2 separate regions of the Homo sapiens genome follow, and region 1 is linked to region 2. The links come from fine-mapping of genetic effects on gene expression. A gene starts in region 2. The other region holds a variant in brackets. All regions are shown on one strand. Distances are between the middles of the regions.

Evidence for each region.
Region 1: its variant is fine-mapped to the expression of UBQLN1-AS1 in cerebellar hemisphere (GTEx, PIP 0.97).

The regions. Positions count from the first base shown.
Region 1 is chr9:84,451,413-84,467,354 of GRCh38, forward strand. All of the region lies in intron 2 of LOC102724036 (a long non-coding RNA gene), which reads left to right. LOC124902192 (a long non-coding RNA gene) reads left to right here. Exons shown (of 2, transcript XR_007061630.1): 2 at 13,217-14,148. Among named protein-coding and RNA genes, the nearest start is that of SLC28A3, 120 kb to the left of the region's middle. The variant A/G (reference allele first, on the strand shown) is at 6,834.
Region 2 is chr9:83,700,520-83,716,461 of GRCh38, forward strand. UBQLN1-AS1 (UBQLN1 antisense RNA 1) reads left to right here and starts at 7,316. Exons shown (of 2, transcript NR_135839.1): 1 at 7,316-7,793; 2 at 11,979-12,977. It overlaps UBQLN1 (ubiquilin 1), which reads right to left and starts at 7,439. Exons shown (of 11, transcript NM_013438.5): 1 at 6,981-7,439. The coding sequence starts at 7,160. RefSeq lists enhancers at 6,462-7,352, 7,120-7,189, 7,353-8,241.

The DNA.
Region 1 (15,942 bases), 750 kb after region 2:
CACCCTCATCTGGGTTTTGATAACTTGCCCAGTTGCCAGCCCTTGTACCCCTGGGCTTCTACCTTGATCTTTGCTAAGCTCTCAAGGATCTGAGATCCTGGCTTTGGTCACGAGCCCAGTGGCTGTTCCCCTGTTGCCTGATGGCAGGTATCCATGAGTCTAACTCCTTGTTGTTCTCCAAGCATTGTCCACTGTCTTTGATTTCCTACATTCTCCTCTGTTCACATCATTAGGACACCTTTTCCCTCCATTAGAATGATTTGATGCCACCAGCTTTATAGAACCTCTAATGCTATGCATCCTGGAGCATTCACTCAGCCTTCCAGAAGGGAAGCACCTACAGTAGGGCTTTCCCCACCAAGCCTGTCCCTCTAGTGGGCAAGGTCAGTTCCTGGTTCTGGACTCTCACACCATGTCCTGATGCATTGCAGCCAACAGGGCTATGCCCCACTGGATTCTGAGAAATGATGTCAGCCATGAACTTGGCCATCCCAGGACCTAGTTAAATTAAGCTCTTTAGATCCATGACTTGGCACATGTAGCTTTAAGGGTCATAGGGCTGTCATTGCAAGGCCAAGATATAGGCAGAAAGGAACAGGAAGTCAGAAGAAAAATAAAAATTATGAGAGATTAAGGAAGGGAGACGGGATGGAGCAAATATGCATATTGAAGGAAATGCCACAATCTTGGTTTCCGGTGTCTTCGGGGGAACTGTTTCACTAGATACTCAATGGACCACCAACCTGCCACTAGGACAGGAATACCACACACTCAACGCTGGGCAAAGTGCTGCCCTCAAAAAGCAAGAACAGAATTATATATACCATGTAGTGGCCTTTAAAATGTGGGATGTGGCTTAAAATGAACCTGAATTTGCATCTCAGCTGAGGAAACTTAGACAAACTACCTGACCTTTGGAAGCCTCAATTTTCTAATTTCTGAAATGTGGGGGTAATAACAGCAACTTCCAAGTGCTTGGCACAAAGTGGATGTTCAATAGATGATGACTCTGCGTTTCCTCCTTGTCACTTTTCCTGTCACAGCACCACAGCAGCACAGTCTTAGAGGCTTTGCAGTGCCATTTGCTGCTTTTCCTGAATGGTGACTTGAAGCAGCAGACTTCTGCACACTACCTACTGTCCAGGTGTCCCAAGGCCAGGCTATATGTGGCTGCTACAATTGTCTCTTGCAGGAGGCACATAAAAATGTGCTCATCAGTGTGGGCTGCCATATTTAGGACTAACATCTAACATTAGATGAGTCAACATCCAGGCGCATTGTCATTGGAATTGCTGGGAAAACACACAGGCAACCCCCACTCACTGGCCCCTGCTTTCCTAAGCCTAGGGAGCCACCCTGGATATCAGGGGGTCTTTCCAGGATAAGTATTGTAAGGGCAGCAGGTTAATAGCAGCCTTTTTACTCATGAACACAGGTGAACATCAACATCCAACAAATATAGGGCTTCTGCTGCATGCCAGCCACTGTGCTAGATGCGAGGGATACCACAGTGTGCAAGACACATCATTCACAGGGAAACGGGGAGAAGAATCATCTGTCTACAGATTAATATCTAGAGTCAGGCAAAGAACCTCCTCATACAGAGTGAAAATAGAGTATTATTTGTAAATTGGGCACCTATTATTTGCTTTTTGCTAACGGAGGATCCTCCCCCAACTGCCCTGCTTATTTTGAGACGGGGTCTGTGTCACCCAGGCTGGAGTGCAGCTCGGTGTAGCCTAGACCTCCCCAGCTAAGATGATCCTCCCACCTCAGCCTTGTGAGTAGCTGGGACTACAGGCATATGCCACCACGCCCAGCTAATGTTTTGTATATTTTGTAGGGACAGGGTGTCGCCATGTTGCCCAGGCTGGTCTTGAACTCCTGAGCTCACGCATCTGCCCCCTTCAGCCTCCCAAAGTGCTGGGACTACAGGCATGAGCCCCTGCCACCGGCCCAGAATGTATCTTTTTTGAAATTCATTTTTCTACCACATAAAGTGATTAAAAGACAACTAGTTGTTGAATTCAAGGCAAATGAGCAACTGTCTATTGGTGAGAAGTTCTATGATTCTGGCTTGGAGATGTCTGCCATGCAAACGTATAGGGCAGCCCTGGGGGGTGCTGCTGACAGCCGAGAGGGCTGGTCAGTTACAGAGGGCTTGGCTGGATGGGGCTTTGAATTCTTGGCTCTTTTGGTATAAAGAGAAGGAAAGCAATGTCTCCACTGTGTCCCCTTCTTAGAAGAGAGCCTTGTTTAATGGCCAAAATGCAGACATGGGATTTAGCTCTCATAAATCCTACCTCTTCTCTGCCCCACGTGTGGCTTAAGTCATGCTAACCTCACCCTGTCTCAGTCTCCCTTTCCTGTAAAAGCAGAGAGGCAAGCAAGGATTTCAGAGTCAGAAAACATGTATGGCATTTCTGGCTCCACCATGTAGAGCTGAGAGGAGTTTAACTCTTAGAACTTTCTCTTTCTTTTCTTTCTTTCTTTTCTTTCCTTTCTTTCCTTCCTTTCCTTTCTGTCTGTCTGTCTTTCTTGTCTCACTCTGTCGCCAAGGCTGGAGTACAGTGGCACGATCTTGGCTCACTGCAACCTCTGCCTCCAGGGTTCAAGCGATTCTTCTGCCTCAGTCCCACAAATAGCTGGGATTACAGGTGTGCACCACCACCCTGGCTAATTTTTTGTATTTTTTAGTAGAGACAGGGTTTCAACATGTTGGCCAGGCTGATCTTGAACTCCTGACCTTAAGTGATCCACCTGCCTCAGCCTCCCAAAGTGCTGGCATAACAGGCATGAGCCACTGCGTCCCACCTAACTCTTAGAACTTCTGTTCTCTTCTCTTACAAATCATTCATTTACAGTCTTTGAAATCAGAAATAGGACTTTACAGCCCCATGGAGAATAAGCCACCCCATGATGCTTATTGAATAGATGGATGGACTGCTACGCTGAAGTATGACTTCATCTATTTCAAGTGCCTTGAGGCCCATGGATCAACACCTGTATGGACACGCCAATGGTCTTCAGAGTCACTGCCTGGGTCCCTTACAGGGATGGGTGTGTCAGTGAGGTCTGGCACTGCAGCTACATTGGGAGAATGTTCACATTCATCTCTTGTTTATTTCGTGTGGATTACTTTGCCTTCTCAAAACCCATTACCCAACATTGCTCTCTTCAGCCTGTGGACCCTGCCCCACTCCTGCCCTACCCCTGGTGAATGTCTCCAGGTGTGTTTTCTCTGGCAAAGGAGTGATCTAGATTTGAAACTTGCCTTGCCACTGGCCATCTGTATGACTTGGGATGAGTTACTGCATCTCTCAGAATCTCAGTTTTTTTTTTCCTCTTTATCAGCTCCGTTGGGGAGAATATGCCTGTGATGCTTTTATCTTTCTTCTGGCAGAGTAGTGGTGAGTGTCAAATGAGATAATATTTTGTGTGTCTGTGTGAACAGAGTTTGAAAATCTAGAAGTGGTTGTAGTTACCAAAGGTGGAAGTTTTGTAATTATGAGTTATTAGCATCCCCCAGCCAGTAGGTTTGTATATGTCTTCCCAGCCACCTCTCAGATGCCCAGGTATACTATATAGAAAATAAAAAGAAGCAGAGAATTGGCAGGGCATGGTGGCTCATGCCTGTAATCCCAGCACTTTGGAAGGCTGACCAGCCTGGGCAACATAGCGAAACTCCATCTCTACAAAAAATAACAAAAATTAGCTGGATTTGGTGGCTTACTTCTGTAGTCCCAGCTGCTTGGGAGGCTGAGGTGGGAGAATCAATTGAGCCCAGGAGATTGAGGCTGCAGTGAGCAGAGATTGAGCCACTGCAATCCAGCCTGGGCAACAGAGTGCAGTGTCTCACTCAACAAAACAAAACACCCCCAAAGAAATAGAGAATTAAAAATGCACCTTAATGGTCAAATTCCATACTATGTTTAGAGAAAGCCTCCCTGCTCTCTGGTGTTTTATTGACTTATTTGACCCTGGAGGCAGAGATTTCCGTGGAATTGCAGGAAGACTAAAGTAAATATATGCAATTTTCTATTTATTCATTCACTTTTCTACCAGCAAGTCATTATTGAACATCAGCTGTATACAATGATGAATCAATCATAGATCTGCTCTTGTGATTGTTTCAAAATGTTAGGAGAAATAGTGCTATATCTTAAATCACAATACAAAGGATAAAATGATAGGCACTACTATTACAAGAGAGATATAATGCTGTGGTTACGCTGAAGAGAGAGAGAGAAAATTTATTGCCAAGGGGAAGGAAGGCTTATTAAAAGATTTTTTTTTTTTTGAGATGGAGTCTCACTCTGTTGCATAGACTGGAATGCAGTGGTGCAATCTCAGCTCACTGCAACCTCCATCTCCCAGGTTCAAGCGATTCTCTTGCCTCAGCCTCCCGAGTAGCTGGGATTACAGGCATGTATTTTTAGTAGAGATGGGGTTTCACCATGTTGGTCAGGTTGGTCTTGAACTCCTGACCTCAAGTGATCTGCCCACCTTGGCCTCACAAAATGCTGGGATTACAGACATGAGCCACTGCGCCCGGCCAAGAAATGGTTTTTAACTGAGTCTTGGAAGGTGGAGAAAATGTTAACTTAAAGAGGTGGGCTGGGGAAGGGAGGGCACCCAGGCAGAGAAACAGACTCGAGTGAAGGTGGGTGCAGAAAGGAAAGGGCTTCTCTCCATTCTCAGTGCCCAGCCTCCTCGTGTGACTTTGAAGTCCCCTTGATCCCTAGTGTAGGTTGTGCTCCTGGTATTAAGCTTGGTTTTTTTTTTTTTTTTTTTTTTTTTTTTTCCATTTCTCTCTTTCTTTTAAGAAGTCCTGTTTTTTTTTTCTTTGATCATTCTTAAGTTTCCAAAAATAATCTGCTATCTTGCCATGCAGTGGATGTTTTCTTTTTCCTTAGGAACCCCCATTGAAAATATTCGGTACATCTCAGCATGAGAGGCCCCTGGCACCTGCCTGCATAACCTTGGTTGCATAAGATGCAAGAGGTCCATCAACTTTCTTTTTCTGGAATATGAAGCTCACTTCAAAGTGCTCTTCGGTTGACTAAGCCTTGGGAGGTGCCATGTCCAATCACCACTTGTCAATTATTGTGTCCTCTGGGTCCCCTGCCTTGCTATAAGATCAAAGGAAAGGGTAGTCCCATTGTACAAGTGAAAATAAGGTTTGTTGCCTATTGGTAGCTGATGTGGAGTGGAAACTAAATAACGGAGGTCAAGAAACTGTCAGTCCAGAGTGTGGAAAGGATCTTCAGTGTGTCTGAGATATCAACCCAGGTGGAAAATGAAGCCTAAACCACCATAGCATTCCAGATGACTGAACTGCTCAAGCGTGAATGCTTGAGAGACTCTCATTCATTTACTTGATTCATTTTACAGGAAGCTGGGACCAGTCCCCTAAATTAGGTTATACTGCATGGCTCTCTCCTCCAACCATAATCAAGTAGCAAAATAAGCAGAGCCAGCATTCCTTGATTCTTACTGGGTATATGTTGATTAATAAAGTTGGGCTGCCCTAGAGTATAAGATGATGATTTTTAGATTGTCAGTTTATTATTATTATTATACTTTAAGTTATAGGGTACATGTGCACAATGTGCAGGTTTGTTACATATGTATACATGTGCCATGTTGGTGTGCTGCACCCATTAACTCGTTATTTACATTAGGTATATCTCCTAATGCTATCCCTCCCCCCTCCCCCCACCCCATGACAGGCCCCGGTGTGTGATGTTCCCCTTCCTATGTCCAGGTGTTCTCATTGTTCAATTCCCACCTATGAGAGAGAACATGTGGTGTTTGGTTTTCTGTCCTTGTGACAGTTTGCTCAGAATGATGGTTTCCAGCTTTATCCATGTTCCTACAAAGGACATGAACTTATCCTTTTTTATGGCTGCATAGTATTCCATGGTGTATATGTGCCACATTTTCTTAATCCAGTCTATCATCCATGGACATTTGGCTTGGTTTCAAATCTTTGCTATTGTGAATAGTGCCGCAATAAACATACGTGTGCATGTGTCTTTATAGCAGCATGACTTAACACTCCTTTGGGTGTATACCCAGTAATGGGATCACTGGGTCAAATGGTATTTCTAGTTCTAGATCCTTGAGGAATCGCCACACTGTCTTCCACGATGGTTGAACTAGTTTACAGTCCCACCAACAGTGTAAAAGCATTCCTATTTCTCCACATCCTCTCCAGCACCTGTTGTTTCCTGACTTTTTAATGATCACCATTCTAACTGGCATGAGATGGTATCTCATTGTGGTTTTCATTTGCATTTCTCTGATGGCCAGTGATGTTGAGCCTTTTTTCATGTGTCTGTTGGCTGCATAAATGTCTTCTTTTGAGAAGTGTCTGTTCATATCCCTCCCCCACTTTTTGATGGGATTGTTTGATTTTTTCTTGTAAATTTGTTTAAGTTCTTTGTAGATTCTGGATATTAGCCCTTTGTCAGATGGGTAGATTGTAAAAATTTTCTCCCATCCTGTAGGTTGCCTGTTCACTCTGATGGTGGTTTCTTTTGCTGTGCAGAAGCTCTTTAGTTTAGTTAGATCCCATTTGTCTATTTTGGCTTTTGTTGCCATTGCTTTTGGTGTTTTAGACATGAAGTCCTTGCCCATGCCTATGTCCTGAATGGTATTGCCTAGATTTTCTTCTAGGGTTTTTATGGTTTTTAGGTCTAACGTTTTAAGTCTTTAATCCATCTTGAATTAATTTTTGTATAAGGTGTAAGGAAGGGATCCAGTTTCAGCTTTCTGCTATGGCTAGCTGGTTTTCCAGCACCATTTATTAAATAGGGAATCCTTTCCCC[A/G]TTTCTTGTTTTTGTCAGGTTTGTCAAAGATCAGATGGTTGTAGATGTGTGGTATTATTTCTGAGGCCTCTGTTTTGTTCCATTGGTCTATATCTCTGTTTTGGTACCAGTGCCATGCTGTTTTGGTTACTGTAGCCTTGTAGTATAGTTTGAAGTCAGATAGCATGGTGCCTCCAGCTTTGTTCTTTTGGCTTAGGATTGTCTTGGCAATGCGGGCTCTTTTTTGGTTCCATATGAAGTTTAAAGTAGTTTTTTCCAATGCTGTGAAGAAAGTCATTGGTAGCTTGATGGGGATGGCATTGAATCTATTAATTACCTTGGGCAGTATGGCCATTTTCATGATATTGATTCTTCCTATCCATGAGCGTGGAATGTTCTTCCATTTGTTTGTGTCCTCTTTTATTTCATTGAGCAGTGGTTTGTAGTTCTCTTTGAAGAGGTCCTTCACATCCCTTGTAAGTTGGATTCCTAGGTCTTTTATTCTCTTTGAAGCAATTGTGAATGGGAGTTCACTCATGATTTGGCTGTTTGTCTGTTATTGGTGTATAGGAATGCTTGTGATTTTTGCACATTGATTTTGTATCCTGAGACTTTGCTGAAGTTGCTTCTCAGCTTGAGATTTTGGGCTGAGACGATGGGGTTTTCTAAATATACAATCATGTCATCTGCAAACAGGGGCAATTTGACTTCCTCTTTTCCTAATTGAATACCCTTTATTTATTTCTCCTGCCTGATTGCCCTGGCCAGAACTTCCAATACTATGTTGAATAGGAGTGGTGAGAGAGGGCATCCATGTCTTGTGCCCGTTTTCAAAGGGAATGCTTCCAGTTTTTGCCCATTCAGTATGATATTGGCTGTGGGTCTGTCATAAATAGCTCTTATTATTTTGAGATACGTCCCATCAATACCTCAATTTATTCCCATTTATCCCATCAAAACTCTCAATTTATTGAGAGTTTTTAGCATGAAGGGCTGTTGAATTTTGTTGAAGGCCTTTTCTGCATCTATTGAGATAATCATGTGGTTTTTATCTTTGGTTCTGTTTGTATGATGGATTATGTTTATTGATTTGCATATGTTGAACCAGCCTTGCATCCCAGGGATGAAGCCAGCTTGATCATGGTGGATAAGCTTTTTGATGTGCTGCTGGATTCGCTTTTTGATGTGCTGCTGGATTTGGTTTGCCAGTATTTTATTGAGGATTTTTCACCGATTGTTAGTTTTATGAGCTAATAAATTTTAAAAAATTGGGTTCCAACACAGAATTGTTAACTTTATATCTTGCTGAATTAAGAAATTAAACTAAAAGGACCTTGACAGTGACAAACTTATGGTCATTATTTTTAAAAGAATTATACATCTATCTATCTATTTTTGAGACAGAGTCTCGTTCTATCGCTCAGGCTGGAGCGCAGTGTTGCTATCTCGGATCACTGCAACCTCTGCCTCCTGGGTTCAAGTGATTCTCATGCCTCAGCCTCCCAAGTAGCTGGGATTACAGTGTGCACCACCATCCCTGGCTAATTTTTGTATTTTTAGTAGAGATGGGGTTTCATCATCTTGCCAGGCTGGTCTCGAACTTCTGACCTCAGATGATCCGCCTGCCTTGGCCTCCCAAAGTGCTGGGATTACAGACGTGAGCCACTGTGCCTGGCAAGAAATATAATTTTTATATGAATTATTAGGAAGTGCATAATCTCAGAATAAAAGATGGCCCTTCCTAAGAAAGCACATTTGGTAATCTTCTACCTTGGTTTTTGCTCTAAAATGCTTAAGACGGCATCATGGTGAGCCCAGGTGGTGGGACTGGCCTTTGGGGACTCTGTATACTAGATGACCACTGAGTTCATTAGTCTATTTGGGAAAGATCGCATATGGATTGAGGAACTTCATGAGGGCATGGATCGTTCTGGAGACAGCCATGTCAATTCTTACGATGTTTATTTTGTGCTGGCATCATATTTCCTGGCATTTGGGGAGTTGATGGAATGGCCCAATTCACTTTTATTCTGAGTCATTTGTGGGAAGAGAAATTTAATTCTCTGGGAACCCTTGTTCGTATTAGTGTTAAATCATTTGTCTGCTGTTTAATGATTTATATTCACAGAGCAAAGAGGTCCCAGAATTGCATTCCTGATTGTGCTACCCCCCAAAGCCTCCCTCTACCACTCTAAGTTAGAGAAATAATTTAGTCTTGTGCCTTAGGGAATCCACTCAAGACACTACTCTTCAGTTTACTCATTGCATGTATATATATCTTAGTGTACTGATATTAGGCTTTTAGTTGAGTACTAGACTTCTTGAGTTTACTTAAATTGGCACTATATTGTATTTTGTGCTATTAACATGCTGAACTGCTTTTGCTTTGTTAACTCAGCAATTAGGTTCCTCCCAAACTTTATGCACCCTTTTTGGTTCATAAATTGTGATTCTCTGATTTATTTTTCTTGAGTTCATATGTTTAATGTGGATGGGCCTTTGGTGCTCATTAAAACAGAGACTTTTATTTGAAAGGTTGTTCTCTAGGTTGTGCTGGTGGGACCTCATATATTACACTTCTCAACATTGCCATCCATAATTTAGTGTAGTGTTCCTATGCATGTAATGTTTCAGCATTTGCAGTGCTTATGAGTAATTGACAATCTATGATGGTACCAATAAATCAGACAAGCCAGGCTCAGCCTTTTATGGTCAGTCTACCAGGGAGGAAAGCTGAAAATCAGTGACTGCTATTAACTGGGAGCTTTTTAGATCATGAAGTCAGAGAAAGCCTTTATTATTAATACATTTTGAGTGGTTGTTTAAAGTAGATATCCTGGGTTGGATAAAGAGACATGAAAAAAATGAATCTTAGTTTATTTTCTTTTAAGTTATTATAATTCATTTCAAAGGAATGACTTATTTTGACAAAGTGAGTGAACTTGAGTTGTAATGTGTATAATAGACTGAATGATGAAGGAGACCTTGGGTTGCATGATGTATTACATATGTCGCAGAGTCAGGGAAATTAGGATTTACTTTCGTGAAATGCAAATCTGGAACAGTGTGGCTTGGGCACCACAACACAGTACAACACGAAGTGTGGTGCATAATGCAAAATACAGCAGTGTGTCTGGAATGTTTTAAATGTTACATTGCTTAGGGATGGGTCTGGGAACGTGTTTTTGTGAGACACATACCTTGAATTTCCATTGTTGGTCATGAGTATTCCACACTGGCTCAAAACTGATTATTGTCTTTTTGTAATATTCTTTTTGACATTGGGAGAGGTATGTAGGGGTCAAAAGCTTGCAGGAGGAGCCAGGCACAGTGGCACATGCTTTTAATCCAATCCCAGCTACTCGAGAGACTGAGGTGGGAGGATCACTTCAGCCCAGGAGTTGGAGACCAGCCTGGGCAATATAGCTATACTCTGTCTTACATATACACACACAAACAGACACACACACACCCACACACACACACACAGAGTTTGCAGGTGGGGAAAAAGTGCCCTCTGGTGTTTGAAAACTCCTGTGCTGTGAAATAGAAACCGTTATGAAGCTGGGTTAGATGGGATTAAAATGCATGAGCTCTAGAGGCCGGTTGGCCTCTGGATTTCATTTCCCGCCTCTGTCATTATTGTACCAGACATGGGACCTTGGGCAAGCTGCTTAACCCGTCAGAACCTTAGTTTCTTTGTCTCTAAAATGGGGAGGAAATTCTTGCCTCATAAGGATGTTTTGAAGAGTAGACATTTGATACACACCTGGATAACTGCTAAGTAACTTTAGGCTTTCCTCTCCTGTGCATCTGGAGAAGAAATAGTCATCACGCAGCTTCTAGCTCTGTCAACTCAGGAGTCTCTAAACATTCTAGAACAGCAGTGCAATGGCCATAGGTTAAAACAGAACCCTGTCTATGCAGCTGGAAAGAATGCGGAACCATTTAGTTCAGGCTGGGGTTGACAAGGCTGTCTTTTCAACGTTAGCCTTGAAAAAAATCACTTATACCTGTGAGTTTAAAAAAAAGCACAGGTAAATTTATTTTTTCATATCTTGTTTTCAGGTTAGAGATCCTTTCTTGTATTGATGTATGGAATTAATGCGTGAAACCCTACTTCAGCTAATGATGCCTTTTTTTGGCAATAAAAAATGTAAATAGTCTGCTTGGGAGTGAATAAATAGAAATTCAGGTGTACAGTATTGTCCTACTTGTAACAGGGGTCAATCATGAGTATGTTTACTGAGCAATCAGTGTTTGCTAAGAGCAAGAAACTGACCTGCTCACTATTTTGACTTATTGATTCACTAAGATCTTACTTCTTGGCCTTTTCTCTAAGAAACCAGTAAAACTATCTTTTAAAAATTCAATTATAATGTATATTACTGGTATATGCAAGCAACACAAAACAAAACAGTCTTCTAACAAAACCTTGACCAAAGAATTATACAGGTGCTGTGGCTCATGCCTGTAATCCCCATGCTTTGGGAGGCCAAGGCTGGTGGATTGCTTGAGCTCAGGAGTTTGAGACCAGCCAGAGTAACAAGGTGAAATCCCACTTCTACAAAAAAATACAAAAAGTTAGCTGGGTGTGGTGGTGCATGCCTATAGTCCCAGCTACTCGGGAGGCTGAGGTAGGAGGATTATTTGAGCCCTGGAGGTCGAGGCTGCAGTGAGCCATGTTCACACCACTCCACTCCAGCCTGGGTGACAGAGCAAGAAAAAAGAATAACATCTTGGTAGTTATATAGCAAAAAACTGACCAGGGGAAAATTTGTCTGGTTAAAAATAATCAACATGAACTTAAAAAGGCAGTGGCTAAAATTATACATGATAATTAAAAAAATACATTATGGAAAAATCGAATCTTTTTGAAAAAATTTAGATCTAAAAAGCTTGGGTTAGAAACATTGGATTTGACCAAAATATTGGCCACAGAAAGACAAGACAGAACAAACGAGGAACACCTTTTGTGATGATTAATTTTAGGCGTCAACTTGACTGGATGGAGGACTCCCTAGAGTGAGGGTATTTCCAGAAGAGACTCGGCATGTGAGACTTAGTGGACTAAGTGGGGAAGATCTACCTTCACTGTGGGTGGGGCATCATCCAGTGGGCAGTGGGCCCGGATAGAACAGAAACAGAAAAAAAGGCAAATTGGCTTCTTTCTCTGGGAGCTGGGATACACTCTTCTGCTGCTGCTGGAACATCAGAACTGTAAGCTCTCTGGCCTTTGGACTCCAGGACTTAGACCAGTGGCTGTTTAGGTGATTAGGCTTCTGGGCTCAGACTGAGAGTTACACCATCAGCTTCCCTGGCTTCCTGGGTGCTACTGGCTTCCCAGGGTCTCCAGCTTGAAGACAGCCTGTCGTGGGACTTCTCAGCCTCCAAAATCATGTGAATTCCCCTGATAAACCCCCTTTTGTATATCTGTATACCTATATCTGTCTTCTCTATCTCTGTCACCTTTATTTCTCTATCTATCATCTATCTATTGTCTATGTATCTATTGTCTATCTATCTATTGTCTATGTATCTATTGTCTCTCTCTCTCTCTCTCTCTCTCTCTCTCGATTGGTTGATTCTATCTCCCTAGGGAACCCTGACTAATACACCTCCCAGTGGCAGATGCTAAATTCTGTAAAATTTGGTATGGACATAAAACTAATCAATGAACTAAATTTCACTGGACTAAATTTATGCCATAAATTTTATGAGGAAATGATTTAATAGCAATCAAACTAAATTTATTAAAATAGAAATAAAAATGGAAATAATTGAGTATCGTTTAAGCAAGGAATTAAATTAATAGAGTTCACTTCTGAAAATGTCTCTTTATGAACATGGATTCATGTTGGTGCAACTCAGACCTCTCCTGGTCCACATGCTCTAGGGATGTTCTGACACAGTACAAATTCCGAGCCCTAGCTGTGGCCTGGCCCTGCGCGGCTTGGCTGTTAGTTATGCCTCTTGCCTCATCTCCTCCACCTGGCCCTGGTTCCCTCTGCTCCAGCCACACTGCTGTCCTTACTGTTACTTGTACATGCCAGGCACACACTCCTTTGATCTTGCCATGTTACCTCTTCTCCCAGATATCACCCAATTCACTCATCACTTTGTGGTGGTCTCTACTTAAGTATCACTTCTCAGAGAGAACTTCTTGGACTACCCTACTCACTCTCCACCCTCTTTCCTTGCTTTCTTTTTTCTCATGGTAATTACTATTTCCTGACATTATTATATCTGTCTATTTGTCTTGCCTCCTTGGCTAGACTGTGGGCTCCAAAGGCTTTGGTTCACTGCTCACTCTGCAGTGTCTCAAAGAGGGCTGGGGATGCAGGAAGCTTGACAAATACTGGTTGAACAAATTCTCATTAAAATGTTTGCATTCATTACCACAGAGCCAACATTTTCCCTGCATTGAACTTCAGAGTCAAAATATTCAAGAAGTCAACATTGGAGGAGAAAAGGGACAGGATCTACATATTCTGCATCACCAGAACCCGTGGTCTGCATATGTGGCCAACATTAGTGCCATTCACTGATGGTTCTGATTTTCTTCCTTCTGGGTAATTCCCCTCTGTCTTGAAGATGAGCATGGTCATAGGACTTGACTTGGTCAATGAAACATGAGCAGAAGGGATGCATGTCACTTCCATGTAGAGAAGCCTTGCAGAGCTCCTGTGCAATTTCCTAAGTCCTTCTCCCTGCTGTGGTGAACAGAGACGCTCTTGACAATTGTGACTTTATCATCCTCGGCCCTTGAGGGGGGATGGTGGGTGCTGGAGCTCTCCCACCAACCTGAGTTTGATGTGGAGCAGGAGGCAGAGCTATTCTTCTGTGGTTTTAGGGCCACTGAGATTTTAGGGTTGTTTATTGCATAACCACCCCCAACCATTTAATCTTTACCTTGGCCATAGGTGGCATTCATTATTATTATCATTTATCACCATGGAAATAGACTTCACAGAGGACAAGCAATTTGTCAAATGTCACATAGCTACTAAGTGGCAGAACTGAAAATTCAAACCCAATTCCAGCTTATTGCATGACCTGAGCTCTTCACTTGATCTTCGCCAAAAGGCCGAGAAGTGATGGCCTGAGCTCTTAAACATAAGCCTGCCAACTTCTCAGGAATTATCAAATATGTTACAGTCCACAGGGGCAAAAACATGCTCATAAGAGCTACACCAGGCTTGTTCAAAACCAGGGAACCATTTACATCCTTTCAAAATCATGTGACATGGCAGTGATCCAGAGAGATCATCAGATCTCTAGGTATATAGTTTCCTTTGACTGCCAGCACATGCAATAAATTAACTATTAAAACCCATGTGAAGGTAACTTGGATTTGATGACTTTGGAAGGGGGCTGGACAAGTTCCTGCTTGGGTAGATTTTAGCTATTCCATCATTTCCATTTAGAGTTTTGAAAAACCCAGTGGCTTTACCTAGAAACAAAACAGACATATTCTAAAACTGATATTTGAGGAGGCCCAGTATATTCTTTTCCTATGTGCAAATTTAGAAGAAATCAGGCCATCTGATGGTTAGGGGAGGGCATGGCCCAGGGCAAAGAGTGGCAGGATCTCAGACCTGTGGCTGAAGGCTCAGAGCCCACCCTGCAGACTAAAACCCAGCCTAGGGCTGGTGGGGCGGGGTGGGAATATGACTCTTATTTCTATGTTTCCCTGACTGGCACCTCATTTTCTTTTAATCAGACAGTATTTAGGGCCTGTTGTCATGTTGGGGTTCAGTTTTGACAATTGTTTTCCATTTAGATCAATTATGATTTGAATTACTTCAAATTCAGGGGAGAGGGGCTCCTTACTATTTCCTCCATATATGGCCAAGACAGGCAAGCAGATAATTTTTCAAACATGAAGAAAACTACTTTTGCAAATTTAAGATGGGATAGTCATTACATGTGCAGGAAAAAATGTTCTGTAATGAGTTTATTTCAGGATATCAGCCATAATGTGTGTATAAATATAAACACACGCTTATACACACACACATTTTATATAATGAGGTCTAATTAAGAATTGCTGAATCCTTTCTTATAGAGCTTTTTGGTTTAAGCACGTGTGTGAACAAATTTAAATGTGAGGGTTTTTTTTTTTTTTTTTTTTTTAAATAGAGACAATGTCTCACTGTCACCTAGGCTGGAGTGCAATGGCATGACCATAGTCCATTGCAGTCTTGAACTCCTGGGCTCACGTGATCTGATCATCCTGCCTCAGCCTCTGGAGTAGCTAGTACTACAGGGGTGCACCACCACACCTGGCTGATTACATTTTTTTTTTTTTTTTGGTAGAGACGGGGGTCTCACTATGTAGCTCAGGCTGATCTTGAATTCCTGTCCTTAAGTGATCCTCCCACCTCGGCCTCCCTTAGTGCTGGGATAACAGGTGTGAGCCACTGCACCCGGCCTAAATGTGGGTGATTTTAAAATTGTATTCATGTCTCAGAACAGAATAGAACAAGGGACAGGTGGTTTCCTTCAGATAAGAGTCGAAATGTGGCACTTTATAGTCTAGTCTCTCTCAATGTGGTGAGGCTGTCATTCATCAACACAGGGACTCCCACAAGCTGGGTGTTTAGCTTTATTTCTCTCTCAGATTGAAGCCTGCAAAATGTAGGTGAGTGTTTCTTCCACTGAACTCTCACCTTTTACTGTAATTGAAGAGGCCGTTAGGAAGAGGTCTGCATTTGGACTCTTGAAAGGCCCTGTGGATGGACAAGCCTAAAAAAAGGTGAACTGGCATTCTGAAGAGCTCTGTTCAGTTCTTAGAAAAAAGTTGGGCTCCTTCTGCTAACACATTTCGTTTCATTTTCTTTTTTAAACTTTACAGCAGCACCAGCCTGAGAATATTAACACATCTCATTTTTTAAAAAGCTAGGTAAAGGAAGCCAGTGGAACAAAAGCAATTGTGGGCACTAATGAAAAGCTGAGAGAAGAGAAAATCAATAATCCCCTGTGTGTGGCTCTGAACACCATTTTCTGTGGTCAGGAGTCAGGTGGTGTGTATGTGGTGTGTGTATGTGGTGTGTGTGTGTGGTGTGTGTGTGGGGGGTGTGTGTGGGGGGTGTGTGTGTGGGGGGTGTGTGGTGTGTGTGTGCTCTGG
Region 2 (15,942 bases):
AATTTTTAGTTGTGATGAATTCTTATCAAAAACAGGCTACTGTGAGAAATCCAACAGGGGATCCCAATCCAGTCTGGACAATCAGAAATAGATACTACCTGGAGAAACTGACCTTTGCATTAAGATTTAAAGATGGAAAAGGAATGGGCAAAGAGTGTTCTTGCATTCTAGGTAGCAAGAACAAACTGTACAGAAGTCCTCAGGCAGGAAAAAAAGTATTAACAGGTCAGGGAACTAGAAGGTCAATGTAGTCAGCCAAGCAAGCAAAGAAAGAAGGCATCTGCAAAAAATGGAGAGGGCATGGAACCGTATTACACAGGGCCTCGCTACTCCATTATATATTCTAAGACCAACAGGGAGCCATTAGCTTTACACAGAGGGTGGCATGCTCTGATTAACGTTTTTCAGAGATCACTCTTGGAATGGCTGGTGGGAGAGTTATAGAAGTCAGGCAACTGACCAGTAGGCTACTGCAGTTTCTAGGCAAGAGGTAATGGCAACTTATTGGAGCCACTACCCGATATTTTAAGTACGTAATCTATAAAATACGCCACCACAGAAATTTTTGCTCTCAGGACACCATTTTACAACTTCAGAACTCCAAAGAGTTTTGCTTGTTTAGGTTATAGCTGTTGATATTTATAATATTACAAATTAAAACTGAATAACCTTTAAAAATAAATTCATTTAAAAATAATACATTATATATTAATAAAAATAACATCCTTATGAAAAATAACTATTTTCTCAGTGATAAGAGTGGCATTATTTTAAATTTTTGGAAATCACTTTAGTCTTGTAATAGAAGACAGCTGGATTTTCACATCTGTTGTCATATCCCACACCTTAAAGACTCTAGCCAAGTGCACTGCCCAGTTTTGAGAAAATTAGACTGAAAAATAAAAATAACATCTCAGAATTACTATGAAAATAGTTTCATCTCATGGTACCCTTAACAGGGTATGGGGACTCCCCAAACCACAGTGAGAACTACTGCTCAGATAACAAAAAGCAAATTTGTCTAGCAGGCTGTCCAGTTTTCCTCAGAGTGCCCCCAGCAAAAATAATAATGAAAATAAAAAGCAAAATAATCACAGTAAGATACCATTTCACAGCCAGTAAGATGGCTATAATCACAAAGACAGTAATAAGTATTACCGAGAATGTGGTTATCGGAATCCTCATGCATTGCTAGTGGAAATGTAAAATGGTACAGACACCTTAGAAAATAATTTGGCAGCTCCTCATAAAGCTCAACATAGAGCTTTGACCCAGCAATTTCCACTCCAAGATCTACACCCAAGAAAAATGAAAACGTTATGTCCCCACAAAAACTTATACATGAGTGTTCAGAGGCATTAGTCACAATAGCCAGAAAGTAGAAACAACCCAATGTCCACCACGTGATAGAAAAATAAAATGTGGAATGCTGTTGGCAACACAATGGAATGTTATTCGGCAATAAAAAGGAAGTAAGTACCGGCACATGCTTCAACAGGGATGAACCTTGAAAACACTATGCTAAGTGAAAGCCAATCACAAAAGACCACATGATTCCACTTACAACAAACGCCCAGAACAAGCAAATCTATAGACAAAAAATAGATCAGTAGTTGCCTAAGGCTGGGGGGCCCAGGGAGAAACGAAGGGCAACTGCTAAAGGGTACAGCGTTTCTTTTTGAGGGTTCTAAACGTTCTAAAATTGACTACACGACCCTGTGAATGTATTACATCAATTACAGACTTTAAAATGGTGAACTGTATGGTAGGCAAATTACACTTCAATTACGCTCTTTCTTAAAAAAAGCTAAGCAATCTCTGTTAATCAGAATCATTAAATAACGAGTTTTTCAGCTGTCCAGTATTAGAACAAAGCAAATAAGAAAACAATGATCTCACAGACATTTTTTTTCTCAGATATCTTGCTATACTGATTCAATCCAACCTTCTGGATAAGATGTTGTCCAGCAGAAATATATATAAGCCACAAGTAATTTAAAAATTTTAAGCAGCCATACTGAAAAAAAAGTTTTTAATAAAAGGTCAAATTAATTTTGATATTTTACTTAACTCACGATCTGCAAAATACTATTTCAATACATAATATATCAAAAGTATTAAGATATTTATTTTGTTCATACCAAATTTTCAAAATCTGGTATAAATTTTACACTTAACACATCTCACTTTTTAAGTACTTAACCACATGTGGGTGATGGTATCAAAGTGGACAGTATAGTTCTAGATCCACACTATACAGTATAACGTTAAATCATGTGTGTGATGATGACCCTAAGGCAAGTTGCCTTATCAAAGAAAGGCTCAATTTGACTCAATACGTTTAAATTATGTCTAAGTATATTAATATTTTCCCAGAAGTTTGCACTGACAGAAGGCACTTTCTAAAACCAGAGTATATACTGCCTGAACATTTCAAGTAAATGTACTTCAAAATTTTACACATAACCTAACAGTCTATGAAATCCCAGAATAAGCTAATTAGAAGTTACACAGAAACTCCCCTCCATTATCTGCACTAATGTCTCACATATATAACTCTCCATTCTTCTAGATGTTATCTTGCTCGTGGATACTTGGAAATCCTCAAAGCTCTTTTCAATAGCTGATGATGAACAATTAACCAAAAAAAAAAAATCTCATACACAGGGACTTTGTGCCACTACACATTTATGCTTTTGTATCTATTTACTTACATACAGGTTGAGCATCCCCAATCCAAAAATATGAAATCTGAAATGCTCCAAAATCTGAAATTTTTTAACACCATGACATCACATGTGGAAAAATCCCATATGTAACACCTTTGCTTTCTGATGGTTCAATGTATACAGTTTGTTTCACTCGCAAAATTATTTAAAATATTGTATAAAATTACCTTTAGGCTCTGTGCATAAAATGTACATGAAATATAACTGAATTTCATGTTTATATTTAGGTGCCATCCCCAAGATATCTCATTATGTATATACAAATATTCCAAAATCCAAAAAAAAAGAAAATCCAAAGTCCCAAACACTTCTGGTCCCAAGCATTTCCCATAAGGGATACTCAAAACCTGTATTACAAAAATCTCTATTAATGACAGCACCTTGGAATGTACACAGTGCAGTTTATATTCTCACTACCTATTCTAGCAACCTGTAAGTAAAAATTTATGTTACTCAGTTGATTCTGAGTGCTCCGTGAATAATAAATTTCACTCTAAATTGGAAAAAAGCTTAAGCTTTATTAGTAACCTTGAACAAGTAACATTATTAAATACCAAATGTATATAGCACTGTAAAAAATTAAGGCAACCTGTTTCTGCCTGTTGGTACTCACGACCAGAAACCAATGGAAAAATAGGAAAATAAATTACCACCTTACAATTTACCCAAGAAGTTTAACGTAATTTCATCTAATCACTTATTACAGCATGTTCATATAAACAGAATTTTGGTATAATGTGTTAAGGAATCTACATTACATAGAAATACTTATTGAAAGAAATTTTAACTTATAGAAAACGGAATTTGTCTGATACAGAGCATAAGCCTTCAATATTATCCTCTGGAGGTCTTCGGCTTACCCTCTGACCCTCCAAAATTAGGTACAAATTTTAAAGACTAAATATTTCCCAATTTCTAACTGGACACTTTCAGTGGAATTTTAATGTCATTAAGTATTTTTAATGACAAATTTTCATTTGTAACAAACAGTTTCAATCAAACCCTTTAAAATTTTTAAATTATAAAATGGCATATCTTTTGTGCTTCAAGTAGATTTTACAAATAGGTCATTTGAAAACTGCTTTTCTTTTTCTTCCACATTTTCCTGTATCTGTTTCCCTTGCATATACAAAGCCCAACTTGTCTACAGGTTCTCTGGTGTGGTGATAAGCGTCAATTTTTATCACATTTTCTGCTTCAACATAAAACAATGATCAAGAATTTAAAAATAAACTACCATCAGAAAAGGCTACTTCAGAAAGACTTTAATTTTATCTATTAACAATTCGTACTGGGCCGGGTGCCCGGTGGTTCACACCTGTAATCCTAGCACTTTGGGAAGCCGAGGCAGGCGGATCACAAGATCAGGAGTTCGAGACCAGCCTGGCCAACATGGTGAAACCCTGTCTCTACTACAAATAGGAAAATTAGCCGGGTGTGGTGTGGCATGCGCCTGTAGTCTCAGCTACTAGGGAAGCTGGGGTGGGAGAATCCTTGAACCCGGGAAGGGGAGGTTGCAGTGAGCCGACACCATGCCATTGCACTCCAGCCTGGGGGGTGACAGAGACTCCATCTCAAAAAAAAAAAAAAAAAAAAAATCTCACTTTGGTTACAGCAGAGTAAAATAAAAGCGTTCACAGAATTTATAATTTTAACATCACAAAAAGCAAAAACATCCTCACAGCTATAACATCATATATTGACTGAAAGGAATTTTTCTATTTATAAAATACTGATTATTTCTAATCTTTTGCAGTAAAATGCTGAAAGCACCCAGGATGGTGGAGGCATGAATTAGGAATCCTAGAAAAGAGATCCGAGAGCTTTAAAACTTAATATGGCTACACACCCGCTAAAATAGCTAAAATTACAGAGACTGACAATATCAAAATGTTAGCAGGGATATGGAGCAACAGGAACTCCCATGTATCTTCATTGGCGGGATGGTAAAATGATACAAGCATTTTTCAGTATATGTGCTGCTGAAGCCAGCACTCCTTTTTTTTTTTGAAACGGAGTTTCACTCTTGTTGCCCAGGCTGGACTGCAATGTCGCAATCTCGGCTCACTGTAACCTCCCTCTCCCAGGTTCAAGCGATGATTCTCCTGCCTCAGCCTCAGCCTCCCCAGTAGCTGGGATTACAGGTGCCTGCCACCACGCCCAGCTAAGTTTTGTATTTTTAGTAGAGACGGGGTTTCACCCCGTTGGCCAGGCTGGTCTCGAACCTCAGGCAATCCACCCGCCTCGGCCTCACAAAGTGCTGGGATTACAGGTGTGAGCCACCGCATCCGGCCCAGAAGCATTTTTTAAAACATAGTTTCTCACAAAACTGAAACATACAATTGCCCTATGACCTACTCAAACCAAGTCTAAGTATATAACCATGAAAGATAAAAGAGTAAGACCACAAAAAGACTTGTATAAGACTGTTCATAGTAACTAACTGCAAACAGCCCAGGTGACCTTCAACAGTGAATAGATTAATTATGGTATACACATACAGTGGAAAACTACACACTAATAAAAAGAAAGGAACTACTGATACACGCAACAAAGACGAAACTCAAAAACATTATGCTGAGTGGGAAAAAAAAGCCTTACCCAGAAAAATACACACAGTACTATAGGCTCTATGGGATCCCATTTAATGTTAAGTTCTAAAACAGGCAACTCTGTAACTTAGGGCATAAAAAAAAAAAACTGGGTGGTTGATGGAAAGGCCAAGTGACTGAAATGACTGGGAAAAGGCAAGAAAAAACTTTCTAGTCAATTATAATGTTCTATATCTTGATAAGAGCTTGGGCTACACAGGTGTAAGCATTTATGAAAACTCACGGAATGGCAACCATATGCATTTCACTGCTGCCAAAATTACGTCAAAAAAACGTAAAAAATGAAGTTGAACTTAGGCAAATAAGTTCACAATGCTGAAGTGACATGTACTGGTGTCATCTACTGATACGTGCAACTTACTCTGAATTGCTCCCCAAAATTAAATGAACTTGATAATCGATTATAATACCGTAAAATGCTAATTGTAGATGATGGACATATGTGTATCCACTTCCCAATTCTTTCAACTTTCCGCATGCTTGAAAATACAAAAATGGTAAGGAAAATTTTTACAAGCACTGGGAGACAAAAACAAAAGTGATAATTCTGTTGGTGGTAAAAGTTTCTCTCATTTGATGTTACACACCTCACTGCTTCACAAAATACACTACCTTTGGAACTCGTTAAACCAATACCCCAATCACCTACTGTCCCTGGGGAAACTGATAGGTACATTTCAGGAATTGTTGTTTCCTGTCACCAACTGTTCACGTTGTTTGCGATCTTCAGAGATTAAGTCAGTAATTATGGAAAACACGACGTATTCAACAATACACTAAAATTATTTGTTAAATTCCACCAAGAATCTTAATTAACTGCAAGATTTGTATTCCTGAACCAAGTTTAAGTAATATTCTGCATTCACTCCGATTTTCTTTTATTTGATTGCAACCGCTAATATCAACATCGCTATCGCCCCTCTAAAATCAAACAAAAACCTACCCAATGATTGGCATCTAAGAGATGATAAACATACTAAAAGGGAAAGAGCAAGTCATCAGTGAAAGAAAGTCATTCACTTTTCTCCTTAAACCTAGTACTATCACTATTACTTAAGATGGAGCTAAAAACAGTTTCTACGTCATAATTTTTTTTTAAAGGTTGCAAGGTGGGAAAGATTTCAGGAGTTAAAATGCAGAACTAAATATACACATGCACCTCACCCCAAAACCCACCTTAACAAGCAGGCACGTAAAACAACGAGGATCCCACCCACCCCTTTTTAATTCATGAAACAAAACCGCAGCCTGAGCTAAAGCGAACCCTCGCCCCCGCCCAGCCTCCACCCCGCCCGGAGGCTGGCGGTGGGTCCCTTTCCTTTGTGAGGAGTTGGAGGGGAGGCGACGGAGGGCGGGGAACTGGGGGAGGAGGCTGAGGGTCGGCGGATACCAGAGAAGGAAGGCTCCGAGAAAAGCGGCATCAGCCCGTCCCACAAACAGGCCGCGCCGCCACGCCACAAACCATTGCGGTGTCCCAAGGCGCAAACCCACGAACTTGGGTGTGATCTAATTTGGGACGACGCCCGGGAGAATGGCCGAGGACGACCCCTCTCCCAGGCCCTTCCAAAAGGTCTCCTGGGGCGGCGGGCGGAGGTCCTGCCGCCACCCCCATCCCGGCCCGAGCCCCAGGCGGCCTCACCTGCTGGACGGAGCTATTCTCGGGCACGGCGAATTCCTCCTTTTCCTTCGGGGTCTTCACGGTGACTTTCATGATTTTGGGCTCCGCGGAGGCAGCGGCCGCGGGGGCGCCAGCACCTTCGGCTCCGGCGGCGCTATCCTGGGAGCCCGGAGGACCGCCGCTTTCACCACTCTCGGCCATGGCTGTGGCGGCGGCGGCGGCGGTGACTCAGGCAAGCAGGAGGGAGCAGGCGAGCAAGGAGGAGCCAGCAGACACCAGAGCCGGCAGGCCTGGACAGCGAAGAATGCAGAGCACGCCGCCTCAGTAGCAACGGGCGCAGGGCCACCGTAGCGGGTGTGGGGCCCCGGAGCTCGGTGCAGGCTCTGGCGCAGGCCCGGGTCAGGCGCTCGGCAGCCGCCGTGTGTTCAGGCGCCGCTCGCTCACACCGACATCCGCAGCAGCCACCGCTTCCTCCTCCCTGCCCCTTCCCCCACGTCCCTTCGCCGGCGCCGCGCGGAGCACGCCGGGTAACGCGCCTGGCGGCGTCGCCGAGTCATCCCCGGCTGGCGCGACTTTGAGCTCAGCCTGCGTGCCTTTTCCTTTCCCGCTCCATTGCCCAAAGTGCAGGCGAAGCCAGTGTGAAGGACTAAAAGCAAAATGGGGCGGGGTAGGTCAGTTCATGGTTTTTTTCCACTCCTTTCACCAAAAACTAAATCGCAGTTTCCAGTTAAGCGCTGTAACGGCGCACCGAGATGACGTCACGGTTAGCGAAATTACTAGAAAGGGACCAGTGGGCCCTGCGGCCGCGGCTGCGCCTGCGCGCTTGCTGTCCAGGTAGTCTCCCCACCTTACCTCATGCCCAGCTGGGCCGTGTTCACCCCTCCGCGCTGTCACAATCGCCTTGCCCTCCCTTGCCTCTCTGTCTACTCTGCGTTCCCCGCTGGGAGGAGGGTCTGGTGATAAAATAGCGGCGAGGTATTTTGTTATTTTAATATGCTTAGCGTTTGATATTTGGAGGGGTCGTATTGCCCTATGCGGGGGAGTTGGGGTAAGTTAATGGTGGAAAGGCCTCAGCACAACGAACAGAAAATGGAGTGAACGCCCGTGACTGCCCTGCGCAATCCTGCGGAGTCATTGCTTCATGGCCAGAGCTTATTTACCGCCCTCGGGTTAGCCCGGTTTGGTCAGACGATCAGTCAGGCAACCTGTATTGACAGTGGCCTCTGCTGCTACGATGACAGCTGTGCGCGAGCGCCCCCAGATTATCTGTGTGTAGGGCGGAACAGGGTGCCCGAGGAGTGTCCACCCAAATGGGACAATTTAATATAGTTGAGGTGTTCGCCTTATATTCTATCAAATTAAGTTACTGGTCAATTTCAGGCTTTAAGTGGCATTAAGGATAGTTCCAAAATTATTTTCAGTGTAATACAGAGAGAAATTATCTCTGAGAATCCTAATTTGAAATGACGTCATTGGCTTTTAAAGATGACTTGCAAGGAATGTACAAACCAGCCCATTATTAATCAATGTTGCACAATTTAAATCCTGACAGCCCACTATGACCCAAATCCGCAAAGATACATTCTGCCTTTCTGCTCCTAAGCCGTCCAACCCTGTTCTGAGAATAAATACTGTTACATAAACACGACTTTTTAGCAGAGCTCTATGGAATCTGGGTCTAAGAGAATCCTGAGGGTATCGATTTCAGTATAGACATCATTTGATATCACCTAAATTTCTGGCAGCATGGCTCAATAACAAGGCCTTCTGCTTAATGAAGGATGACTACTTGGTTATGTCCAGGTGTGAGATGATCACTGCTTCTAAAGCTAGAAAGTGCCACAACTGGACAACCAATCATTTGGAATTTCTTCCATATGTCTAAATAAAATTTCTCCTCAACTTCATTAGCTCCTCATTACCTGTTTTTCCCTGTCATGCTGTGTCTTACCTGCATGCTTTGCCTAGGCTGCCTTCCTCTACCTAGAATGACTTTCCCCTTGCCTTCACCTGTCTAACTTCTACTCATCCTGTATCACATGCCCCAGGAAGACTTCACTCCCTACCATTTAGAGATATGGTTTTTCCCTTGATTCTCCAACAAATACCGTGTGTGTGTGTGTGTGTGTGTGTGTGTGTGTGTCTGTCTCCCTGCATTTATGGACTTTGCAATTATCTGTGTCTACATTATTGTCTAAAAATGTTTGATGTGTGTGACACTATAAGGTAATAAGATTTACCTGTAAGAAGATACCATATAGTTATCCATTGTTATGGCACTTTTTAGATATAATCCTGACCTGCATGAGAATCGGAGGTGGGGGCACTATGGTGTAAATCAGAGATTAGTGAACTTTCTGGGAGGGCTAGATAGTAAATATTTGGTTGGTGCCAAAAAAAAAAATTTGCAAAAACCGCAATTATTTATGCATCAACCTAATATTTTAGGCTTTGTGAGCCACAGGATCTCGGTCTAAAACACTAAGCTATGCCCTTGTATCACAGAGTAATCATAGACAATACATACATGAATAATCATAGCTATGTTTACTAAAAACTCTACTTGCAAAACAAAAACAGACATAGGATCTGATTTGGCCTACAGAAGATAGTTTGCCAACCCCAGGTCTAGATGTTTATTTGTGGCATTTTCTTCTGAATGGTTTTTGTTTGTTAAATGGTCTGTCTGGAGAAAATTTTAAGAACATATTTTATCACAGTATCCTAATACTGTATAATACTATATTGAGCATACAAGAATAATAAGACTCAGTTTCTGCCGTCAAAAAACTTGAAGTGATAGTTGGATGATGGGGGTGAGGGATAGGAGGGAGACTGGCAGTGATGTCCTGGTAAATGACTAATAACCAGTCCTCCTGAAAATAAACTTTATTACATTTGCCAATTTCCTTGATGTAAATACTTGCAAATGGTTACCAACTTGAGATCCTCTGCCTCACAAAACACGTGAAATTTTACCAGTAAGCCCTCACAAGCCAGTATGAGCCAGCTCCAACTGAAGAAGTCCCATTTTGAGAAAATCCATTATTCAGAGTTCAAGTATATTGATAGAAGGTTATTATTCACGATAGAATAATTCTTTTTTGACAAAATGATTCAGTCAACTCAATAAGAATTCATTGAGTATCCTCTGACAAACTTTAATCCTCTAATCTTGTGTCCAGGAACATACCTTTAATACGAGGTAGTACATATGTCATGTAAGTGCTATAAATAACATGACTTCATCATGTTACTAGGCTACTGAAAAATCTATCATAAGTTTCCCACTGCCTAGAAAATAAAGCCAAAGCTTTTTATTTTTTTTGGAGACAGTTTTTTTCTGTCGCCCAGGCTGGAGGGTAATGGCATGATCTCGGCCTACTGCAACCTCCGCCTCCTGGGTTCAAGCGATTCTCCTGCCTCAGCCTCCTGAGTAGCTGGGATTACAGGCATGCACCACCACGCCCAGCTAATTTTTGTATTTTTAGTAGAAACAGAGTTTGACCATGTTGGCCAGGCTGGTCTCAAACTCCTGACCTCAGGTGATCCACCCACCTCAGCCTCCCAAAGTGCTGGGATTACAGGTGTGAGCCACTGCGCCCAGCCCAGAGCTTCCTAACTAGGCCTTCCACAGGTAACTCCTAGTGTTGACTCCTGTTGCTCTCAATATATATGCTCCATTCCAGTCAAATACCTTTATTATCATCCCTAGAAGCACTTATACATTATACTTTTCTTAACTTCTGATCATTCCTTCAAGTCATTACACCCACCTCCTTGTACCCATTATTGCTACCTGCTTTCTGAAACTCCTTGAATACCCAAGCTTACAGAATCTGACCTTCCGTCATAATTACCTGCACATTTCACTTGACCATTCATCACTTGTAGCACAGCTTCTATTATCTGAAACTTTCTCCTGCTACCAGTCTAGTTTACACCCTCATGAGCTCTGGCCTAGATTACAGCAATAACCTCCTACAGATTCCTCTGCCTCAATCTAAAGTCTCCATCCTCAACTCTTATTTTCCTGTGATGCCATATGTTATCCTAGAACGAAGCTTTGATTATGACACCTGCTTGAAAATTTCCAGTCACTGTCACCAAAGTGTTAAGAGTAATGTCTAAACTTTGTGGCATGGTGTCCAGGGTCTTCTGTAAACCAAAGACCTTGCTCTTCACTCATATCTTATCCTCAACCAAACTGGTCAGCTAAGCTCTCCAAGCATGTCTTGCACTTTCCAGCTTCAACTGCAAGTAGAAATTCTTCCCCCTTATTTTGACCCCATCATTTTACCCATCCCGCAAGACTCAAATGTGACATTCCCTAATAACCCTTTTTGGATCCGAAATAGTCTTTAAATCCTCTGTATTCCCATATAGCTTTATTACTTTTTGATGTCACTTACCACATTCTGTCTTGTATCATATGTCTGTGCATATCTCATTTATTAGATAAAGGCCTTGAAAACAGGGATCAAGTCTTAATCATCATTTATACCAGAGGTCCCCAACCCCTGGGCCATGGACCAGTACCAGTCTGTGGCCTGTTAGGAACTGGGCTACACAGCAGGAGGTGGTGAGTGACAGGCAAGCAAGCATTACTGCCTGAGCTCCACCTCCCATCAGATCAGCAGCAGCAGCGGCATTAGATTCTGTTAGGAGAGTGATCACTATTGTGAACTGGGCATGTGAGGGATCTAGGTTGTGTGCTCCTTAAGAGAATCTAATGCCTGATGATCTGAGATGGAAGAGTTTCATCCCAAAACCATCTCCCCCTGACCCCCAGTCCATGGAAAAATTGTCTTCCACAAAACCGGTCCCTGGTGCCAAAAAGGTTGGGGAACTGCTGGTCGGTACAAAAGTAATTGTGGTTTTTGCACTGTTGGAATTTGTCATTTGATATTGGAATACATTCTTAAATAAATGTGGTTATGTTATACATCATTTTAATGTGCATTTCTTTTTTTTTTTTTTTTGCTAATGACATTGCTGTTTGTTTTATATTTATTTTAGACTATGGAAATGATGTTAGACAAAAAGCAAATTCGAGCAATTTTCTTATTCAAGTTCAAAATGGGTCATAAAGCAGCGGAGACAACTCACAACATCAGCAACACATTTGGCCCAGGAACTGCTAATGAACGCACAGTGCAGTGGTGGTTCAAGAAGTTTCACAAAGGAGAGGAGAGCCTTGAAGATGAGGAGCATAGTGGCCAGCCATCGGAAGTTGACAGTGACCAATTGAGAGCAATCATCGAAGCTGATCCTCTTATAACTACACCTGAAGTTGCTGAAGAACTCAACATTGACCATTCTACAGTCGTTCGGCATTTGAAGCAAATTGGAAAGGTGAAAAAGCTTGGTAAGTGGGTGCCTTGTGAACTAAGCGAAAAACAAAAAAATTGTCGTTTTGAAGTGTCATCTTCTCTTATTCTACGCAACAACAGTGAACCATTTCTCGATCAGATTGTGATGTGCCATGAAAAGTGGATTTTATACGACAGCCAGTGACAGCCAGCTCAGTGGTTGGACCAGGAAGCTCCAAAGCATTTCCCAAAGCCAAACTTGCACCAGAATAAGGTCATGGTCACTGTTTGGTGGTCTGCTGCTGGTCTGATCCACTACAACTTTCTGAATCCTGGCGAAACCCTTACATCTGAGAAATATGCTCAGTAAATCGATGAGATGCACCAAAAACTACAACACCTGCCGCTGGCATTGGTCAACAGAAAGGGCCCAATTCTTCTCCACGACAGTGCCCAACCACACATTGCACAACCAGCACTTGGGAAATTGAACGAATTGGGCTACGAAGTTTTGCCTCATCCTCCATATTCACCTGACCTCTCGCCAACCGACTACCACTTCTTCAAGCATCTTGACAACTTTTTGCAGGGAAAACGCTTCCACAACCAGCAGGATGCAGAACATGCTTTCCAATAGTTCGCTGAATCACAAAGCATGGATTTTTATGCTACAGGAATAAACAAACTTATTTCTCGTTGGCAAAAATGTGTTGATTGTAATGGTTCCTATTTTGATTAATAAGATGCATTTGAGCCTAGTTATAATGATTTAAAATTCACAGTCCAAAACCACAATTACTTTTGCACCAAGCTAATACCACACAGTGCCCAGTGTGATTTCTTGGCATGAGAGCATTTATTGTTGAAATGAATTATTGAACCATCCTGTTTTCCACCAGAGAGGAAACTCCTTTAGAGCAGTAGATCATATTTTATACTCCTTTGTCTTTCCTGAAGTTTATAGTATAGTGACATAAATAGATGATTGATTAATTCAAAGAAAGATAGATGTATACATACATGCCTTAGAACTTATTTGCTTTACAATAGAAGTTCAAAGAAATAAAACACTGGGGCAGGGGAAGGTGGAAAAGTCAGAGGCTTTTGAAAGAAATGATTTTGAGCCAGCCCTTAAGGAATGGATATGATTTTAAGCATGTTGAGAGGGACGATGTCTTGAGAAAGAGTTCATAATGGGGAATAGAAACTCTCCTAGAACACCAGTCTCAAATTGGGTCCATAGCCTAGGAACAATTGGAACACTTCATAAATATCTCTAGGGCTACTTCAAAATCAAAGGGAATGAAGTGTTCCAGTTGTTTCTGAGTCTTCGGGCTGGAGAAGAGGTGGTGGTAAAGATGGGTGCTTATTAATTTGCCAACTAAAACTTTAGACACTGGGTAGAAGGAGCAACTATTAGGTTGGTGCAAAAGTAACTGCAGTTTTTGCCATATTTTAATGACAAAACTGCAGTTACTTTTGTACCAACCTAATATATGTACGGCCACTACAAACTTTGGATAAAAGTTGCTAAGTAGGATCCCATAGTTTTCTTGGTGCTGTACCAAGCACTGCATAACACACAGAAGCAAAGGGGGCTGGCAGCGGCACAAGGTAAGGAGACATAGCAGCCTCTTTGGAGAACATGGCTGGGGCTCTATTCGTTTTTTCGCTTTTTATTTTGAAGTAATTATAGGAAGTTGCAAAAATAGAGTCCTGTGTACCCTTGCTTCCCCCAGTGGTGGCATTTGATATTGTTGCATAATATCAAAATTAGGAAATTGACATGTTAACTAGACTACAGACCTTACTGGTTGTACCATATTTTTAACCTGCATTCATTTGCATGTGTGTGTCTGTATGCATGTAGCTGTATGCAAAATTCCATACATAAATTTATGTTACCATCACTGCAGTCAAGATACAGAATTATTCTATCACCAGTCTATTTTTAATCCTTCCTGTATTACAGGGTTTTTCAACCTTGATACTGTTGACATTTGGGGTCAGATCATTTTATCTTGTGGGGGGCTTTTCTGTGCATTGTAGGATGTTTAGCAGAATCCTTACTCACTAGATGTCAGTAGCAGTCCCACCCTACCCCTGTCATGACAATAGAAAATGTCTCTAGACTGTGCCAGATGTCACATTGGAGGCAAAATTGCTCCTGGTTGAGAACCACTGCTGTACAGAGAGCTAGTGGAATCCTCTTTACCATCTGCATCTTTCCTCTTATTTCCCCTCTTACAAAGTGGAGTAGCAAATGTTATCAAGTATCAAAAATGATATTTCACGTCAAAGTCTTTTTAATTCTGAGTCTATTAGAATACTCAAGATAAACTTCACTGCGAATTTTTCCCAGTAGATGGTAAGTCTTGCCAGGATTCCATTATAAACTTAATCTCAGTTACTGCATCTCACCTACTCATCCCTTATCAAGAGTCTTGAATTTACTCAGGTCTTATGAAAATGCCTGAAAATATTTGAAGACTATTCTCCTTTGACCTCTCTTACAAACAAGTTACTGCTCATAACCTAAGACACAGTCCCTAAGGCAAGCATTGACTATCTTGCAGAAGTGTTAAGACTGGTTCTCCTGGAAACATATGAATAGAAGGATATATATTTTGATAAGTAGACTCAGGTTTGGTCTTATTTTGTGTGTAAAACTCTAAGCCTGGTGATTTCAGTGGACAAATGTATTCAAAACAAACATACTTGGAATGTGTTTCTTGACCTTAGGAGGTTAGCTTATGTGAAGAGTCTGCCGTCATGTATAAACTAAGCAAATGAGCCATGGGGAAATTTTAGGTGATTACTGAGGACACAGAAAAGAAGGTTAGGAATTTTCAAAATCTGTAGTATGATGCCAATCATCCAAGAATTCCAGAGGATACTAATGCTTCTGGGGGGAAAATATAATGCTTCTGGAAGCTGAGAGGTGTTTAAAGAAGAAAGTATTGTCTTCCCGTCATTCATTGCACTTGAATAATTCTTACAGCCTTTTTTCCCATTTGAGAATGGTCAATGAGTTGAAAGGTCAAGGCAGAACCTGTGGCTTATCCAAGTTCTATAATATGTCAAATAACTGTGAAGGATCTGAGTCCCCACTTACAAGCTATCAGTTTCAAACTGTAAACACAAGACTCCTACATGAGAAACAAAGGTCTTTGTTACTCACAGCAGTATCAGTGGCTGCCATGTCAGCATTTTCTTGCACCAGTTACCCAAGCCCTAATTTCCACAAGGTGATACAAAGAGAGCTAGGTGACACCTGTACACACAGTGGTTTGCATGATAAGAGAGGAAATCCAAACATGGGGAACCCAAATCTTTTATAATGGGCAGTAAGCATGACTTCCCTTTGCTTTGTAGGAAGATACTTTATCTTCTAAGACTGTTCACTATAGAAATACCCTTGGAAAAATAGTCCAGGCCAGGTTTGGTGGCTCACACCTATAATCCCAGCACTTTGGGAGGCGGAAGCGGGCAGACTGCTTGAGCTCAGGAGACCAAGACTAGCCTGGGCAATGTGGCAAAACCCCATCTCTACATAAAATGCAAAAGTTAGCCAGGCATGGTGGCACCCACCTGTTGTCCCAGCTACTCAGGAGGCTGAGATGGGAGGATTGTTTGCACCCAGAGGTTGAGGCTGCAGTGAGCTGTGACTG